Regions from separate parts of the Homo sapiens genome. Here region 2 is linked to region 1. The links come from fine-mapping of genetic effects on gene expression. Tissue or cell type: whole blood. Region 1 holds a variant in brackets; the other region holds the start of a gene. All regions are shown on one strand. Distances are from middle to middle.

Region 1 (8,000 bases):
TGGGTTCCAGCCAGGTGGGGTAGGAGGGGCCCCCAGGTCCACCTTCCACCTCTTCTTCTCATTTCTGAGGCCCTGCCCCCTTCAGCCCCCTTCCAAGTGCCCCATGCTGGGGGTTCAGAGGCCCCACGCAGCCTGCCCCAGCCTTCCTCCCTGTCACAGAATGTTGCGTCCCAGGCAGACAGCGTGACCTGCCGCAGCCATAAGGGACAGGGCCCAGCTGTGGCCAAACCCGGGCATTCCCCCTGCAGGGCCTGGGCCTGCCAGCCGCCCCCCTACCCCCACCCTGCCTGGCTCCACACATGCCTGAACCGCAGCGTGGGCCGTGGCCCTGGAGCAAGAACAGGACCAGGGAGGGGCCCTGTGGCCATGAGGCCGGGGTGGAGGTGGCCCGAGCAGGCGAGGAGGGAGGCTGGGGCCTGCAGAGCACCCAGGCAACCTGGTGAGGACAGCTGGGGCATTTTAAACGCAGTCTCTGCCCAGAGGGAGGGGCAGGGCTGGGAAGCCCCACTAATGGGAGTGGGCACCCCATGCTGGTCCTGCCTAAAAGAAAGGATTAGTAGGCCAGGCACAGAGGCTCATGCCTATAATCCCAGCACTTTGGGGGGCCAAGGTGGGAGGATCTCTCAAGCCCAGGAGTTTGACATCACCCTGGACAACATAGCGAGACTCCATCTCTACAAAAAAATTTAAAAGTTAGCTGGGGGTGGTGGTGCACACCTGTGGTCCCAGCTACTTGAGAGGCTGAGGTGGGAGGATTGCTTTAGCCCAGGAGTTTGAGCCTGCAGTAAGCTATGATTGTGCCACTGGACTCCAGCCTGGGCAAGACTGAGATCTCATCTCTAAAAATATAAAAATAAAATGTAAACAGAGGGCTGGCAGGGAGGGCAATGGCAGGCTTGGGGCTTCTAGCTGCCCTGGCACCCCTTGGACGATGGGGCTAGGGAGTGGAGTCCCCTTCCTGACCTCTCCTCCCATCCTCACAGGTAGCTGAAGCCTCTGGGTGCTGGACTCCATGTTAGGGGTCACCAAGGGTGAGCCAGGTGCCTCCCACTCACCGTGTGCCTGGCCTGTGAGCCTCTGTCCAGGCCCCCCAGGTCCCTGTCCTGGCTGCCCCCTCCCACCCCAGATTCCCTGTCCTGGCCACCTCCTCCCCTCATCCAGCCCTGCTTACAAGGGACTTAGGCTCATCCCAGGAGGTGCCCTGGGCCTCGGCAGCCTGCCCTGGGTGGCAGCCCCAGCCTGGCCACTCGAAGAGCCCAGCCCCCAGGACTTCAGGGCTCCAGGGCTGGGCTCTGTCCCAGGCCTCACTGCCCACGTAGAAGGGCAGCTTGCTGTGCCTTGTCTCACCAGCACAACGCTAGCGTTTCAGGAGGCTGGCCCAGGGAAGGAAAAGTTGGAAATAATCTGTTCATTCCCCTGAACTCCCCAAGGCGCCTTCGACTCTCCACCATCCCCCTGGCCCCAGCCAGCCTAGGAGCGCCTGTCCGCAGCCCCAGGGTCCCGCTCTCAGCGCAGCAGGCACCCCTCCCGGAGCCCGTCTTATCGCAGGGCACTGGGGAGATTTGGGATCACAGCACACAGCCCATGTACAGGACAGTCCCCGCTACGGACCCCGCCCATGCAGGGCCCTGCGGGAGGAAAACCGGGCCTTCCCTGGCCAGCCCGAGACCCACAGAGACTGAGCAGCAGAGGTCGGGTGGGCCGAGTCCTCGACACAGAGGAGGGTCCCTCGGCTCCAAGCAGCGCCTCAGGCCCCATGCTCCCTCCCCCAGACCCACTCCTGCCGCCCTGGGGGGTCTGTGTGTGCCTCCAGGTAGCCACTGGCTGCTGCCGTTAACCTCTGTGCCCCCCACGTCCCCTGCAGGAGCCTCCCGGACACGACAATGGGTTCGGCGCGCCTCCTCCCCCCACCGCGGGGCAGACGCAGGTGCTGCTCCTCCCGTCTAACGTGATTGGTGGAGGGTGGGCACGTGACCTCCGCCGCCCAATCAGGGCCCTGCAGGTGCCTTTGCCTGGCTGGGCCGGCGGCGCTGGAACGGGCCGTGCAGGACGCGGGCCTTGAGGCACCTGCGGGGCTCCCGGGGGAGTCCTGGCTCTGACCTCGGCCTTCCATACCGCCTGGGGTGGGCGGGCCGGGCGCGGCAGCACACGCCAGTGAGCCCAGCGCTTTGGGAGGCCGAGGCGGGAGGCGGTGCCCGGGAGCTTGCGTGCCACGGGGAGGAGCAGCCGCGCCTTCTGCAAGGCGTCCTTGAGAGGCGGGAGGGAAACCGCCGCTTCCACTCAGCACCCTGGACCCCCAGCCCACCGTGGGGACCGGTCCCTGGGGCCTCTCCCATTGACCCCTCCCATCAGGTCCTCTCTTCCCTCTGCTTCGCTCCCCGGCACCCCCACCCCCAACCCATCGCCTTCATCTCGGCCTCCCCACAGCAACAAGGACAGACTTACCCTCCACTGCTCTTCCTCCGTTCCCGGAAAACTCCCGGCCTGTCCTCTGCTCACCCTCCCCTCTCTCTTCCCACTCTCCGGGCAAAGACCTTTTCCCAGACACGGTCCTGGGCGCTGGGAGGCCCCTTGGGGGTGGGGTGGGGGGCCAGGGGTGGTTGGGGCGTGGCTGGGGAGGAGGGTGCCTCGTCCCCACATGGAGGAGTCCTGGCCCACCTGTCCCTCTGAGCACCTGCGTGGGCAGGGAGGACGGGCACGGCACCTGCCTGTCGGCCCTGCCTGTGGGACCAGGGGCTCCCGGGGCCCCACACAGCACTCTCACGTCCAGGCAAGGCGGGGGCACCCAGGACAGTCCTGGACTCCTGACCCCGCAGGTCTTGGGCAAGACTGCTAACAATTAAATGTTAGTTTCTATAGATGAAAAAACTTTTTTTTTAAATAGAGATGAGGTCTCACTATGTTGCCCACCCAGTCAGATCTTGAACTCCTGGCCTCAAGCGATCCTCCTGCCTCAGCCTCTCAAAGTGCTGAGATTAAAGGTGTGAGCCACTGTGCCCAGCCAGTTTGCATAGTTTTGTTGTTGTTTGTTGTTGTTTTTTAAATAAATTGAGACAGAGTCTCGCTCTGTCACCCGGGCTGGAGTGCAATGGCGCGATCTCGGCTCACGGCAACCTCTGTCCCCTGGATTCAAGCGATTCTCCTGCCTGAGCCTCCTGGGTAGCTAGGATTACAGGCGCCCACCACCACGCCTGGCTAATTTTTTTTGTATTTTTAGTAGAGACGGGGTTTCACCATGTTGGCCAGGCTGGTTTCAAACTCCTGACCTCAAGTGATCTGCCCGCCTCAGCCTCCCAAAGTGCTAGAATTACAGGCGTGAGCCACAGCGCCCAGCCATTTCCATAGATTTTTTTTTTTTTTTTTTTTTTGAGACAGAGTCTCACTGTCGCCCAGACTGGAGGCAGTGGCATGATCCCGGGTCACCACAACCTCTGCCTCCTGGGTTCAAGCAATTCTCCTGCCTCAGCCTCTGGAGTAGCTGGGATTACAGGCGCCTGCCACCATGACCAGCTAATTTTTGTATTTTTAGTAGAGACAAGGTTTCACCATGTTGGACAGGCTGGTCTTGAACTCCTGGCCTCAAGTGATCCACCCGCCTCAGCCTCCCAAAGTGCTGGGATTATAGGCGTAAGCCACCACGCCCAGCCAAATTATGCAAACTATTTTAAAGAACAATGATTCACACAGAGCTATCGTGATTTTATGTAGTGTTTGAAATTTAACTAGAGCTCATTCAATGCTTCTGTGAAAATGAAATGCCTTGTAATCCTTGCGCTGCACATCCTCTGGTCCCAGAGCACACAGCCAAGTGGCCACGCACTTCACTCAGTGCGGGAACCCACCCAGCCCTGCAGTCAGAGGCGTGGAGGGTCAGGCTGGGCCACTCTGCCACCAACCACAGCACCCAAGGTCATCGGGTGGGTCTCTGGCGCCACCCCTCGGACATTCAGCCCTCCCTGAAGCTTGTGACCGTGGCCAGCTACCCGACTCCTCCTGCCCCCAGATGAGACCCTCACTTTCTGTTTGGGGGATGTGGGGCCAGGCATGGAGGAGGCTTTCCTGGGGCTCAGGCCTAGAGTCTTCCCGGCGTTGCCAGCTCTGAACCCTGAGCCCTTCTGCTGCGCCCTGCTATCTCATGGGTCTCTGGGACATGGAGCTGGAGTGGGGGAAGGCGATGCAAGGGTACGACCTCCTGGGCCCTTCTCCTTCCCAGGTCCCGGCAGTCAGGGCCCCTGCCTCCCCTTCCCACCACCTGACTTGCCTGCCCTCCTGGGGTCTAGCAGCTTAGTGAACAGGTGGGCACGGCAGGGGGAGCCCCGCCCGTGGGATGGGGACCCCCCTGAAGCAGCTGCTGGCTCCTCCCTGCCCCCACCCAGGCCGTGTGCTTTGGGACCAACTCCAAGGTGCCTTCTCCTCCCATCCCTGCCCACTGTGGCCGATTGGTGGCTGATCCCTGGACTTGTAAGTTCCTAGGGGGAGGGACCAGCCCACCTGGTGGTCCCAGGGCCCAGCACACAGTGGGCCTTCAGAAATGCTTATCAAACAAATGCCAGTGGCCGCAGGCAGGGCCTGAGAGGAGCAGCTTAGCGGCCAGGTCCAGGCCCAGCATGGTCAAGCCATGCCGGGTTCCTGATTCTCCGGCCCTAGCCCAGGGGCTGCCCCGAGGGCAGAGCTGGCCCACCCCCACATTCTCTTCTGCTTCCTGGTTTCACGGGGGACGTGGGAGTGGATGAGGTGTGCAGAGAGTGCAGTGGCTGTGGGTGGACAGCACCAACTGCTGCCACCAACAC[G/A]GGCCAGCTGGTGCCAGCTCGGCTCGGAAGAGGCCAAAATGGGCAGTGACGGGAGACAGCTGGCCTCCCACGGGGGCGGAAGAGCAGCCCGGGGGCTGCAGGACAATGGCCCAGGCAAGAGCAGCCTTGGAGTGAGGCTGGACGCCCCCAGGTCCCAGCAGGGCACAAGATGGGCATATGCCAGAGAGGATCTCCCCTCCCAAATCCCAAGAGCCGCTGAAATCGGCCCAGTGCCCACTGCGTGGACTCCAGCCAACAGGGAGCGCCGGGCTTTTAAAGAGGCGGGGTGGGGGCAGAGAGGGCCTTGGTGGTACTGGCGCCGGTCCAGAGTGGACAGAAGAGTCAGAGAGGGGTCTGAGACATTTAATAAGTAGGTACCACTCCACCCACTGTCCTCTGGGGCAGCCGGCAGAAGATCCCCTGCCCTGGGTGGCAGGGCCCTGATCTGAGGCTGGTTTCACGGAGGACAGGCAGCGGGCACCCCACTGGTGGGGTCGTCTCTCGGGGCACTGACTTCTCAGCACTGGAGCTGTGTGCCGGCCTCACCTCCTCACTTCTGCAGCAGAGACGAGACTCAGCCGGTGGCAGTGGCCCCCCTCACCACGCCGCCATGCTTGCCCCGCTGTGCACTCACCGTCCAGGACGTGGAACTGGTCTGCAGCCTCGCAGAAGCCTGGGGGCCCAAGGCAGGGGTCAGGCTGGACATCAGCCCAGAGAGTGGGGGTGGCTGAGCTGGGGACCTGCTGGGGACACTCACCGTACTTGGGGAAGTAGAAGATCTGGTCCTCAGTCAGGTGGGCCTCCTGGACCCGCTGCTCAAACCCACTCAGGACCGAGTCGCTCACAGGGAGCGAGCGGGCTGCAGGGCAGACAGGGTTCCTGGGGTCCTGGCACCAGGCGGCGTGGAGGGCTCTGGAAACGGGGTCTGTGTGTCCCCTGCCCCCTCGGGGCCCTCTCCCTGCTCCCACACCAGGCCTGTCTGTCACTACTCCCTGGGCCCCTGCTTAGCAGGAGGATCAGGATGGGAGAAAGGAAGTGTGTCCCCATGGGCTCACCCAGCCCCTCGGGGTGGCCCAGTGAGTGTGCAGAGCTTGAGCGCCTGCCTGGTCACAGAGGCTGGCCCCCACATACCGTAGAGCTTCACTGACAGCTGCCCCGCCCGCTCCAGGTACAGGACAGCGAAACTCTGGTAGTCGGTCTCAGCGACAACCACGTGCACAGCCCCTCGGGCGTCTCGGGCTGGGGCAGAGCCACAGTAGCCATGTCAGAGAGCCACAGTGGCTGCGTCATCCCCCACCCACATGCCCTGCAGCCCCTGCCTCACCTTGAAGCAGGAAGCGGCCGAGGACCCCTGTGTCTCCATAGAGCTGGCGCACCTGCCAGCAGATCCCATCCCTGGGGGGGCGGGGAGGAGGCACCACAGGCTGGGAGACCCCAACCAGGAATCCTAGTCCAGGCCACAGCCGGGGTGGGGTCAGGGGCCAGAGCAGGGCTGAAGTCCGGGGGCTGAGAGGAGGGTTGGGGTTAGGGTGCAGGGCTGCTCTGGGACTCACAGCTTTCGGAAGGTACTGACAGCCATGGCTGTGCCCTGGGGAGCCACATGCAGTGTGGTGGCCTCGGCCCGGTGGCCCTGCTCCTGCAGGAAACGGCAAGCGGAGCCCACAGCCACAAGGAGCCAGGTCCCTGCAAACTGGGGGCAGACCATGGGAGAACTCGAGGGCACTGTGGGAGGGCCCCTCACCTGCTTCCCTCTACACCCCCCACAACTTCACCTGCTTCCCTCTCCCCCGCAACAACTTCTACCTGTCTCCCTCTACCCCTCCCACAACTTCTACCTGCCTCCCTCTACCCCCCCCAACTTCTACCTGCTGAGCATCAAAATTGGCCTTGGGCTGGATGGTGCTGATGGGGGATGCGGGCCGGCGTGGCCTCTGAGGCTTCTGGCCCAGCGAGCCAGCTGCCAGGAGCAGAGTCAAGAGGGTCGCAGTCCCAGGGGGCAGCATGGTGGCGGCAGCAGGGTGGCAGGACTGTGGGAGGCCAAGGGTAGCACCACCAAGTCCCAGGACAGAGTCTACTCTGCTGTCACAGAGCCCAGCCCAGGAAGTCCATGTCCATCCGTTGCCTCCCCACCCCCCACCTCCAGCCTCCTCGTGAGCCTAGCTTCGATCTGCACTTCCTGGCAGGGCCCTGGCACCATGTCCTATGTACAAAGTCCGAGTTGACCTCTGGCTGTTTATCCATTTCTCCTGCACCCCTGATTTCCACCGACAGTCCTTAGCCCTTTACACGTTATCTTCCTTAAACCATCACCCAGTGGTCTTATCTCCATGGCCAACGTCACGGGGTTCATGAAGCCACTTGCTCAGGGCCCGGCAACAGGGAGCGCCGGAGGCGGGTCCCGAACCAGCGTTCGTTGAGCCTCGCCTGCAACCCCGCCCACGACCGCCGCCCGCTGGCCACAAGGGGCGCTGTTCCCAATGCGCCCGAGTGCGCGCAGGCGCACAAAGAAAAGCCGGCCAGGCCGCCGGAGCCCAAGGCGCAGGCGCACGAGGGGCGGATGCGGGCTACCCGCGCGCTCTGCCTTCCTCGGCCATCGATGCCTCGGGGCTCGTGGCGTCGGGCCTGGCGGGCTCCCCGTTGGGCGGGGGCGGCGGTCCGAGCGGCTGCGGCAGCGGAAGCGGGTCCGGGTCGCGCAGGGCGGGGGCGGCGCAGCGGGCGGAGGCGGCCGTGGTGAGTGCGCCTGCGGCCCTCGGGGGTCCCGCCTTGTCGTCCCCGCCCGCCTTGGGCGAGTGCAGGAGCCCCGAGGCCGCCCGTGCGCTCGTCCCCGCCGTCCGCCCCGAGCCCGCCGGGCAGAGCTGCTCCAGGGCCGCAGGGCGGAGGCCACTGCCTGGCCGCCCCGAGCTTCCTCTCGGCGGAAGCCCGTCCCCGGACGGCGCCTGGTGTCCCCGTGCCTCGCGTGCGGCGGTCCGGGCCCTGGCGGGCTGAGGGGCGCCCGCTGCCGGCCGCAGGAGGCCGGGGGATGACGCGGCGGAGAGGGGCCGGCCCGGCCCGCCCGGAGCTGCCGGGTCCTTGGTTGGGCGGCGGTACCCGGGCGTCCCCTGCAGACACGCAGCCCCGTGGAACTCCCGGCGGGACGGTTGGGGCTGGAGGAACAGGACGCCCGCTCTCGGCCTCCCTTCCCGGGCCTGGGCTGAGGGCAGCCGTTGGTGG
Region 2 (8,000 bases), 80 kb before region 1:
GGGACAGCTAGGCAACCTGGGAGGGGAGGACGGGGGTGGCGCTGAGTGGGGCATGTCGGTGTCCCTGAGCCCATGGGAGGGGAGGACGGGGGTGGCGCTGAGTGGGGCATGTGGGTGTCCCTGAGCCCATGGGAGGGGAGGACGGGGTTGGCGCTGAGTGGGGCGTGTGGATGTCCCTGAGCCCAAGTGACAGAGCCTCCCCTCCCTCGTGCTGCTGCAGGGCACGGCCCCACCCGGAGGCTGCGAGGCTTGGGGGTCCTGGCCGGGGTGGCTCTGCTCGCTGCCCTCTGGCTCCTGTGGCTGCTGGGGTCAGCCCCTCGGGGTACCCCGGCACCCCAGCCCACGATCACCATCCTTGTCTGGCACTGGCCCTTCACTGACCAGCCCCCAGAGCTGCCCAGCGACACCTGCACCCGCTACGGCATCGCCCGCTGCCACCTGAGTGCCAACCGAAGCCTGCTGGCCAGCGCCGACGCCGTGGTCTTCCACCACCGCGAGCTGCAGACCCGGCGGTCCCACCTGCCCCTGGCCCAGCGGCCGCGAGGGCAGCCCTGGGTGTGGGCCTCCATGGAGTCTCCTAGCCACACCCACGGCCTCAGCCACCTCCGAGGCATCTTCAACTGGGTGCTGAGCTACCGGCGCGACTCGGACATCTTTGTGCCCTATGGCCGCCTGGAGCCCCACTGGGGGCCCTCGCCACCGCTGCCAGCCAAGAGCAGGGTGGCCGCCTGGGTGGTCAGCAACTTCCAGGAGCGGCAGCTGCGTGCCAGGCTGTACCGGCAGCTGGCGCCTCATCTGCGGGTGGATGTCTTTGGCCGTGCCAATGGACGGCCACTGTGCGCCAGCTGCCTGGTGCCCACCGTGGCCCAGTACCGCTTCTACCTGTCCTTTGAGAACTCTCAGCACCGCGACTACATTACGGAGAAATTCTGGCGCAACGCACTGGTGGCTGGCACTGTGCCAGTGGTGCTGGGGCCCCCACGGGCCACCTATGAGGCCTTCGTGCCGGCTGACGCCTTCGTGCATGTGGATGACTTTGGCTCAGCCCGAGAGCTGGCGGCTTTCCTCACTGGCATGAATGAGAGCCGATACCAACGCTTCTTTGCCTGGCGTGACAGGCTCCGCGTGCGACTGTTCACCGACTGGCGGGAACGTTTCTGTGCCATCTGTGACCGCTACCCACACCTACCCCGCAGCCAAGTCTATGAGGACCTTGAGGGTTGGTTTCAGGCCTGAGATCCGCTGGCCGGGGGAGGTGGGTGTGGGTGGAAGGGCTGGGTGTCGAAATCAAACCACCAGGCATCCGGCCCTTACCGGCAAGCAGCGGGCTAACGGGAGGCTGGGCACAGAGGTCAGGAAGCAGGGGTGGGGGGTGCAGGTGGGCACTGGAGCATGCAGAGGAGGTGAGAGTGGGAGGGAGGTAACGGGTGCCTGCTGCGGCAGACGGGAGGGGAAAGGCTGCCGAGGACCCTCCCCACCCTGAACAAATCTTGGGTGGGTGAAGGCCTGGCTGGAAGAGGGTGAAAGGCAGGGCCCTTGGGGCTGGGGGGCACCCCAGCCTGAAGTTTGTGGGGGCCAAACCTGGGACCCCGAGCTTCCTCGGTAGCAGAGGCCCTGTGGTCCCCGAGACACAGGCACGGGTCCCTGCCACGTCCATAGTTCTGAGGTCCCTGTGTGTAGGCTGGGGCGGGGCCCAGGAGACCACGGGGAGCAAACCAGCTTGTTCTGGGCTCAGGGAGGGAGGGCGGTGGACAATAAACATCTGAGCAGTGCCTCGTGGGTCTGGCCAGTGTCTCATGGGTCACCTCCGTGCAGGGCCACAGAGCCTGCATCTGCCCTCCCCTGACATGTCGCCCCCACGGCCATGGGGCTGCTTGTTCCCCACGGGGGGTCCTGTCGCCTGACTTCTGGGCCTTTGCTCACCCTCCGCCTGAGAGCCCTCCCTGTGCCGGGCTGCCCACTGGCTACCCCAGTTCCTACAGCCTCCGCCAGACGGCCCCTTATCAGAGAGCCTTCTGTGTCCCCCAAAAGGCCAAGGCGATGAGCCCAGGAGTTCGAGACCAGCCTGGGCAGTGTAGTGAAATCTCATCTCTACCAAAAATACAAGAATTAGCAGGGCGTGGTGGCTCACGCTTGTGGTCTCAGCTACTTGGGATACTGAGGTGAGAGGATGGCTTGAGCCCAGGAGGTTGAAGCTTCAGTGAGCCGTGATCACACCACAGCACTCCAGCCTGGGCAACAGAATGAGACCCTGTCTCAAAACAAAAACCAAAACAGGCCAAGGTTGGGGAAGAGTAGGGAACGGACGTCAGAGGCCTGGCCAGGCTGAAATCGCCCATCTCCCAGGCCCGCAGGCTGGAGGGTGTCTGGGGTGACAGGGTCTGACCTGTGCCTTGTAGCTCCCTCTGGTGGCCAGTGCTGGGGAGGCACTGGGGATGCGGCTGCAGCCAGGGAGCCCCTGTAGTGGACGGTGGAGAGTGGGGCGAGGAGGAGAGAGGCCAACCCACGGGTGGTGCTGACCAGGGCCCCAACAGGCTAAGCCCCCGGGGCTGGGGCACAGGGCTTGTCCCTACCCCAGGTAGGGGTGGGCAGGTTGAGGGCAGGAAGCCCCCCTCACCCATGGCTGTGGCTTGTGGGAAAGACCTGCTGGTAGCTTCCTGCCCTGACCCAGCCCTGTGGACTGAGCAGAGAAAAGCAAGTGCCTTGAGGCTGCGGGCTGGGGTGGGAAGCTGATCCCTCACTCACTAGCCCAGGGTCACCTTCCTGCTGCAAAGGAGCTGGGAGGAGTGGGGAGCTGTGGCCTCGGAGGTCTTCATTCACTTGAGGATGCGCCTTCTATGTGCGCCCTGACACTGGACACCACACAGCGCTACTCCACCCCATTCACAGGGGGGAAACTGAGTCTGGGAAGCGCCGTCAGAGCCACCCATGGGGTCAGCCTGTCCTCTGTCGCTCTCTACAGGCCACGCGGAGGAACTGCCCCACCTCCCGGGGCGCCCCAGCAGGTGCCAAGCCACAGCCGCAGAACCGCCTGATCCCGAACTCCCTGTGCAGAGACCAGACTCGCCCGAATATGGGGAGAAAAACGAGCCGCGTGCAGCAGGGGCCGCCTCGGTCCCCTGCCTGCTCCGCTCACGGCGAGCGTTCCTGGGGCCTCGAGTTTCCCCCCTTCCGCTGGCTGCTCGGAATCGCGGGACGGACCCACCTGGCCGCCCTGCCTCCCTTCCAGGTGGGCACCACCTGGACTCCAAGTGCTGGTTTACAAAGCACACAGGAGACCCTTACGGGGGTGAGCTGGCCCCTCGCCAGCGTCCGCTCGGCGCGCCCCGGGGACAGTGAAGGCTTGGGGCGCCTCTGCAGAGTCGCCAGCGCGGTGGGCGCAGCCGGATGCCTCTGGGAGAAGAGCGCAGCGCCCGAGGGTCCCCCGGCCTACGAAGGCTAAGCCGGGGTCTCGGATTCGATGTGGGCGCGTCGCGTGACGCCCGGCGAGGGGCGGCCCGGAGGCTTCCCGGCGGCGGCGCGCGCAGGGTCTCGGGCCCGGGTCGGTCCCGGGCGCGGCGCGGGCGGCGGGCGCCTCCTGGCGGGCGCGGACGGAGCGCGGCGCCTTTAAGCGGGGGCGGGCGGGGCGCGGGCAGAGTCGCTGTCGCCGCGGCCGCCGGGGCGGAGCCAGCGCGGATCGGGTCCCGGACGCCCGAGCGCCCCGCCCCCGCGCGGGCGATGCCCAGCGGCGCGGCGGGCTGCGGGGCCCGGCGGGGCGCGCAGAGGAGCGGGCCGCGGCGCTGAGGCGGCGGAGCGTGGCCCCGCCATGGGCTTCCTGCACCAGCTGCAGCTGCTGCTCTGGAAGAACGTGACGCTCAAACGCCGGAGCCCGGTGAGCCCACCCCACGCGCCCGCCCTCAGCCCGAGGCCGCGCGCACCGCGGCCAGAGGCGCGCTCCCCGCGCGCACGTGCGGACGGCCGGGCGCGCGCAGACCCCGGCGGGCGCTGGGGGCGGCGCGGGCCCGAGCCCCCTCCCCGCCGGGCCCTGCCCTCGCCTGCCGGCGCTGCGGCCTCCGGGGAGGTGGCTCGGTCGTGTCCAGTCCGGTCCCGCGTCCGCTGACATCGCGGTGCTCGGCTGAGTCACGGCACCCGCGCCCTCTGCAGCGCGCTCGCTGGGGCCGCTGTGGGCGGGGGGCAAGCGGCGCTCAGGACTCTGGCTCGAGGGAGGCCCTGGTTCCCAGGACAGAAGGCAGGCCTGGGGGGCTCCATTCAGCTGCGAGGCTCCATGGTCCTTGGGCCCAGCCTCCCTGGGGTCCCGGAGGAGACCCTGTCCCTTCCCTCCGTCCACCCCTCCCCTGCCCTTGGGCCGCGGCCTGCCATAGAGGTTGGTCCCAGGCATCTCTCCGCCTCCCCTCCTGGCACATCCGTGACCCTTGCTCATGCTCTCGCCACTGGGAATGTCCTTGTGCCAGCCTTGGCCAGCCTGAATCTCTGCACCCATTTGTCCTTTGGGGTCAGTTCTCCCCGAGCCTGATCCACTCTGTTGCCTCCTGGTCCCCCCACCTGCTCTGGGGGCTGGGTCTACTGTTTGGAGCTGTGAACCCCGGCTTTCCCAGCACTGCCTGGGCAGCCAGTGGACCTGAGGGTGCAGGACACATGGCTGTCAGGGACAGAAGTCCTTCGTGGAGCGAGGGGCTTGGGGATATGGGTGTCCTGCCATACCCCCAGCTGGCCAGCTTGGCTCCAGCCTGGGAAGGGAAGGGACACCTCCCAGGCCACAGGCCTGGACCAGCTTAGGTTTCTGAAGGCCCTTGGGATTGTCCAGGCCAGGGCTCAGAGCAGGTGGGGGCCTAAGGCAGACATCCTCTTGCCCAGCCAGGGCCCGGGCGGGACCCCTTGGGCTGCACCAGTCCGTGCCTGTTTATCTTTCAACATGCACTGCAGGAAACCCAGGCTGCAGTCAGCTGGGGTGGCCATCATCACCATGGCTGGCAGAATTCCCCTGGGCACCTGGCCTTGGCGGGGAGCCTGGGTTAGGTACATGCCCTGGCCAGGCACCTGGAGCTGGCTGAGTGGGGTCCCATGGATCAGGCCTGCAGCCCCTGGCATTGAGTCACTGGGGACAGCAGAGCAGGGCCAAGGGAACAGGGATGTGGCATGTGGCATGCATTAGTATTAGTCCCCGGGGGTGGTTGTCAGGAAGGTCCCCACTGGGCTTGGGAGCAGAGGCTGGAATGGTGGCCCCTGTTCCAGTGGGGACAATGCTCAGGGAAGGGAGTGTGGCCTATGAGGGCAGCTGGCAAGCAGGTGGGAGGTGTGCACTGTCCTGACCGCAAGAGTGACTCCCAGCTGCTGGTTTGGGCTGCCCCCCAGGACCTTTTTGGGTCCCCACCCTACAGGGCTCCCAGAGGCCCACTGGGCCACAGTGGAGGTCCTTAGCCCATGGCTGGAGCAGGTGGGGAACTGTTTCCCCCAGGGAGGCTGAGTCCTTGCCAGGCTTGTGATGTGGGGCTGGGGCTGGCTGGACACTGGGCACACTCCTGCTGGGTCCCCACTTTCCTGGGAAGGATCTTGGACATCAGAGCTGGACTCTTGGGGCCAAGCTTGGATGACAGAGGTTTGCCCTGTGTGCCATGCGCCCTGCTGGGGCAGGGGTGCACCCTGGGCAGAGCTCCACCCTGGGCAGAGCTCAGGGTCTGGAGGGTGGGTGCCAAGGACCTCTGTGCTGCTAGCAGGCTCCTCCAAGCTCTTTGCCTCAGTTTCCCTGTCTGTGAGTGTGGCCTATCTCCTCTTAGTTAGCTGGACTTGGGTCTACCCTTGGGCTACAGGCTGCTCTTGGTGCAGGGACAGGGTCACTGTCATGAAGTCACTGGGATGGCAGATGGCAGCGCCACCCTCGGGTCTCACCTGTTCTCCCCCCGACACAGTAGGCGGGAGCTACAGGGAGGGGTCATGCCCAGAGAAGGCATCTAGGCCTCCAGGCGATGTGAAGGCACTGGGCTGGTCTCGAGGGACGGAGGTTGGGCCACCTGGAGGCACCTGTGTGGGGCACCCAGGGCGTGCTAGACCTGTGCTGCCGCCTGTAACCAGATGCTGCTGTGGCGCCCGCCGCCTGCCAGCCAGGACTCTCCTCCTCCTCCCAGTAGCTCGTGCGAGGCCGTTGCTATAGCAATGGGGGAGGCAGCCGGGCCTGTTGCTGCAGTTACAGTGCCCATAGCAGGCCGGGTGTGGGCGGGGCTGGCGCCCCGTGCTGTGACCCCTGCCTCTGACATTGCCTCACTCCTGCAGCCACCCTCGCCCTGGTGCCTGTTGGTGCCCACAGTGCCTTGGCGAACCCTGGGCTCCGTCCTGGCTCAGGGAGCGGGTGGAGGCTGGCACGGGCTGGGGCGGGCATGGGACACCCACAGCATGATGTTCCTGGCCACAAAGCCCTATTGTCCAAGCACAGTAAACACAGCAGCCGCCCCCACCCCAGGGACCGGGGACTCGGCCCGGGCCACACAGCACACTGGGGGCTCTGAAGGGTTTTGGGATGGGGATGAGGACAAAGGATGCCTCCGAGCTGGGTGCTCGCCCTCGGGCTAGGGAGGGCAGGGCCCCTCTGTCCTGTGGGTCTCAGAGAGGGCTGGTCTGCCGAGGGCTCTCTGGAGGGTAGCTGGCTCAAGCTCCTCCTCCTCCCTGAGCTGGGGGCTGGGACACAAGAACCGGTAAAGTCCTTGGTTTTCAGGTGAAGTGAGCAAAGCACCTCTTTCTCACTCCACGCAGGTCCCACTAGGGCTCACCTTGGTGCCCAGCCTGGGTTAGCAGGAGCCGACCTGGGGAAACTGAGCTCCAAGGCCCAAGACTGGCTGCCCCGGGTCAGGAGAGGGGACAGGGCAGAAAGAGGTGCCTTTGGGCCAGGTGTGGTGGCTCACGCCCAGGTGGGCGGATCACGAGGTCAGGAGATCGACACCATCCTGGCTAACACGGTGAAACCCCGTCTCTACTAAAAATACAAAAAATTAGCTGGGCATGGTGGCGGGCGCCTGTAGTCCCAGCTACTCGAGAGGCTGAGGCAAGAGAATGGTGTGAACTTGGGGGACGGAGCTTGCAGTGAGCTGAGATCGCACCACTGTGCTCCAGCCTGGGTGACAGAGTGAGACTCCGTCTCAAAAAAAAAAAAAAAAAAAGGTGCCTTTGCTTCAGGGACTGGGGCTGTTAGACCCCTTACCAGGTCTTCTCCGAGGCTCAGGGCCCTGGGCGCAGGCCAAGCCTCTCAACCAGGCCTCCTCATCTCCCCAGGCCCCGGTATTGGTGGGGAGGAAGTGGGAGGAAGGTGAACCCGGGGCAGTGTGGGAAGTGTAGGCGGGGCTAGTGGCTCAGATGGTCCCCAAGATTTTGCCCAGGTAGCCCTGGAGGTGGGGAGGGAGAAGATGAGCTGGGATATACATGGGTCAGAGTAGACCACAAGCTGGCCGATTTGTCCCTGTAGGCCCTGAGGCTCCTCAGAGGGCACGTAGGCCCAGTGTGGGCTGGGGACGGGAAACCTGATTTGCTGAGCCAGACAATCCTTACCCTCAGTGCCCTGGAAGGGGCTCAGACCTTCAGTGGTTCCGAAGGGCCTGTGCCCACCTTCCCTGGCCCCAGGGAGCACGTGGTCCTGTCTGGGCTGGGCCAGCCCTATGGGAGGCTGGGGAGGGCCTAGGCGAGCACAGGTCTGTCCTATCCCTCACTGGGCCCACCCTTTCCAGTGGGTCCTGGCCTTCGAGATCTTCATCCCCCTGGTGCTGTTCTTTATCCTGCTGGGGCTGCGACAGAAGAAGCCCACCATCTCCGTGAAGGAAGGTGAGTGCGGCAGGAGGCCCCAGGCACAGCCGGGGGAGCGCGGCACCTCGCACGCCTGCGCTGTGTGTGCACATCTGCACACGGGTGTCCTGCTCCCGGAGTCCCTGAGGTGCGGTGCCTGCTCCCCTGTGTGGTCCTGGGCCGTGCCTCCTGGCTGGGCTGTGGAGGTCGGGGCTGGCCTGTGGCCGCGAATGATG

Evidence for each region. PIP is the estimated chance that this variant, and not a neighbour inherited with it, causes the effect.
Region 2: it holds the start of LINC02908, and the variant in region 1 is fine-mapped to the expression of LINC02908 in whole blood (TOPMed, PIP above 0.99).

The regions. Positions count from the first base shown.
Region 1 is chr9:136,944,114-136,952,113 of GRCh38, reverse strand. It overlaps FBXW5 (F-box and WD repeat domain containing 5), which reads left to right and starts at 7,376. Exons shown (of 9, transcript NM_018998.4): 1 at 7,376-7,520. It overlaps C8G (complement C8 gamma chain), which reads right to left and starts at 6,871. Exons shown (of 7, transcript NM_000606.3): 1 at 6,656-6,871; 2 at 6,344-6,480; 3 at 6,115-6,185; 4 at 5,922-6,029; 5 at 5,548-5,649; 6 at 5,425-5,463; 7 at 5,139-5,346. The coding sequence starts at 6,793. The coding sequence ends at 5,333. It also overlaps a transcript of LCN12 not described here. RefSeq lists silencers at 1,825-2,324, 2,345-2,444, 7,333-7,912. The variant G/A (reference allele first, on the strand shown) is at 4,791.
Region 2 is chr9:137,023,946-137,031,945 of GRCh38, reverse strand. LINC02908 (long intergenic non-protein coding RNA 2908) reads right to left here and starts at 4,482. Exons shown (of 3, transcript NR_171031.1): 1 at 4,035-4,482. It overlaps ABCA2 (ATP binding cassette subfamily A member 2), which reads left to right and starts at 3,709. Exons shown (of 49, transcript NM_001606.5): 1 at 3,709-3,871; 2 at 7,710-7,803. The coding sequence starts at 3,806. FUT7 (fucosyltransferase 7) reads left to right here. Exons shown (of 2, transcript NM_004479.4): 2 at 221-1,772. The coding sequence ends at 1,236. RefSeq lists an enhancer at 2,824-3,568 and a silencer at 3,452-3,631.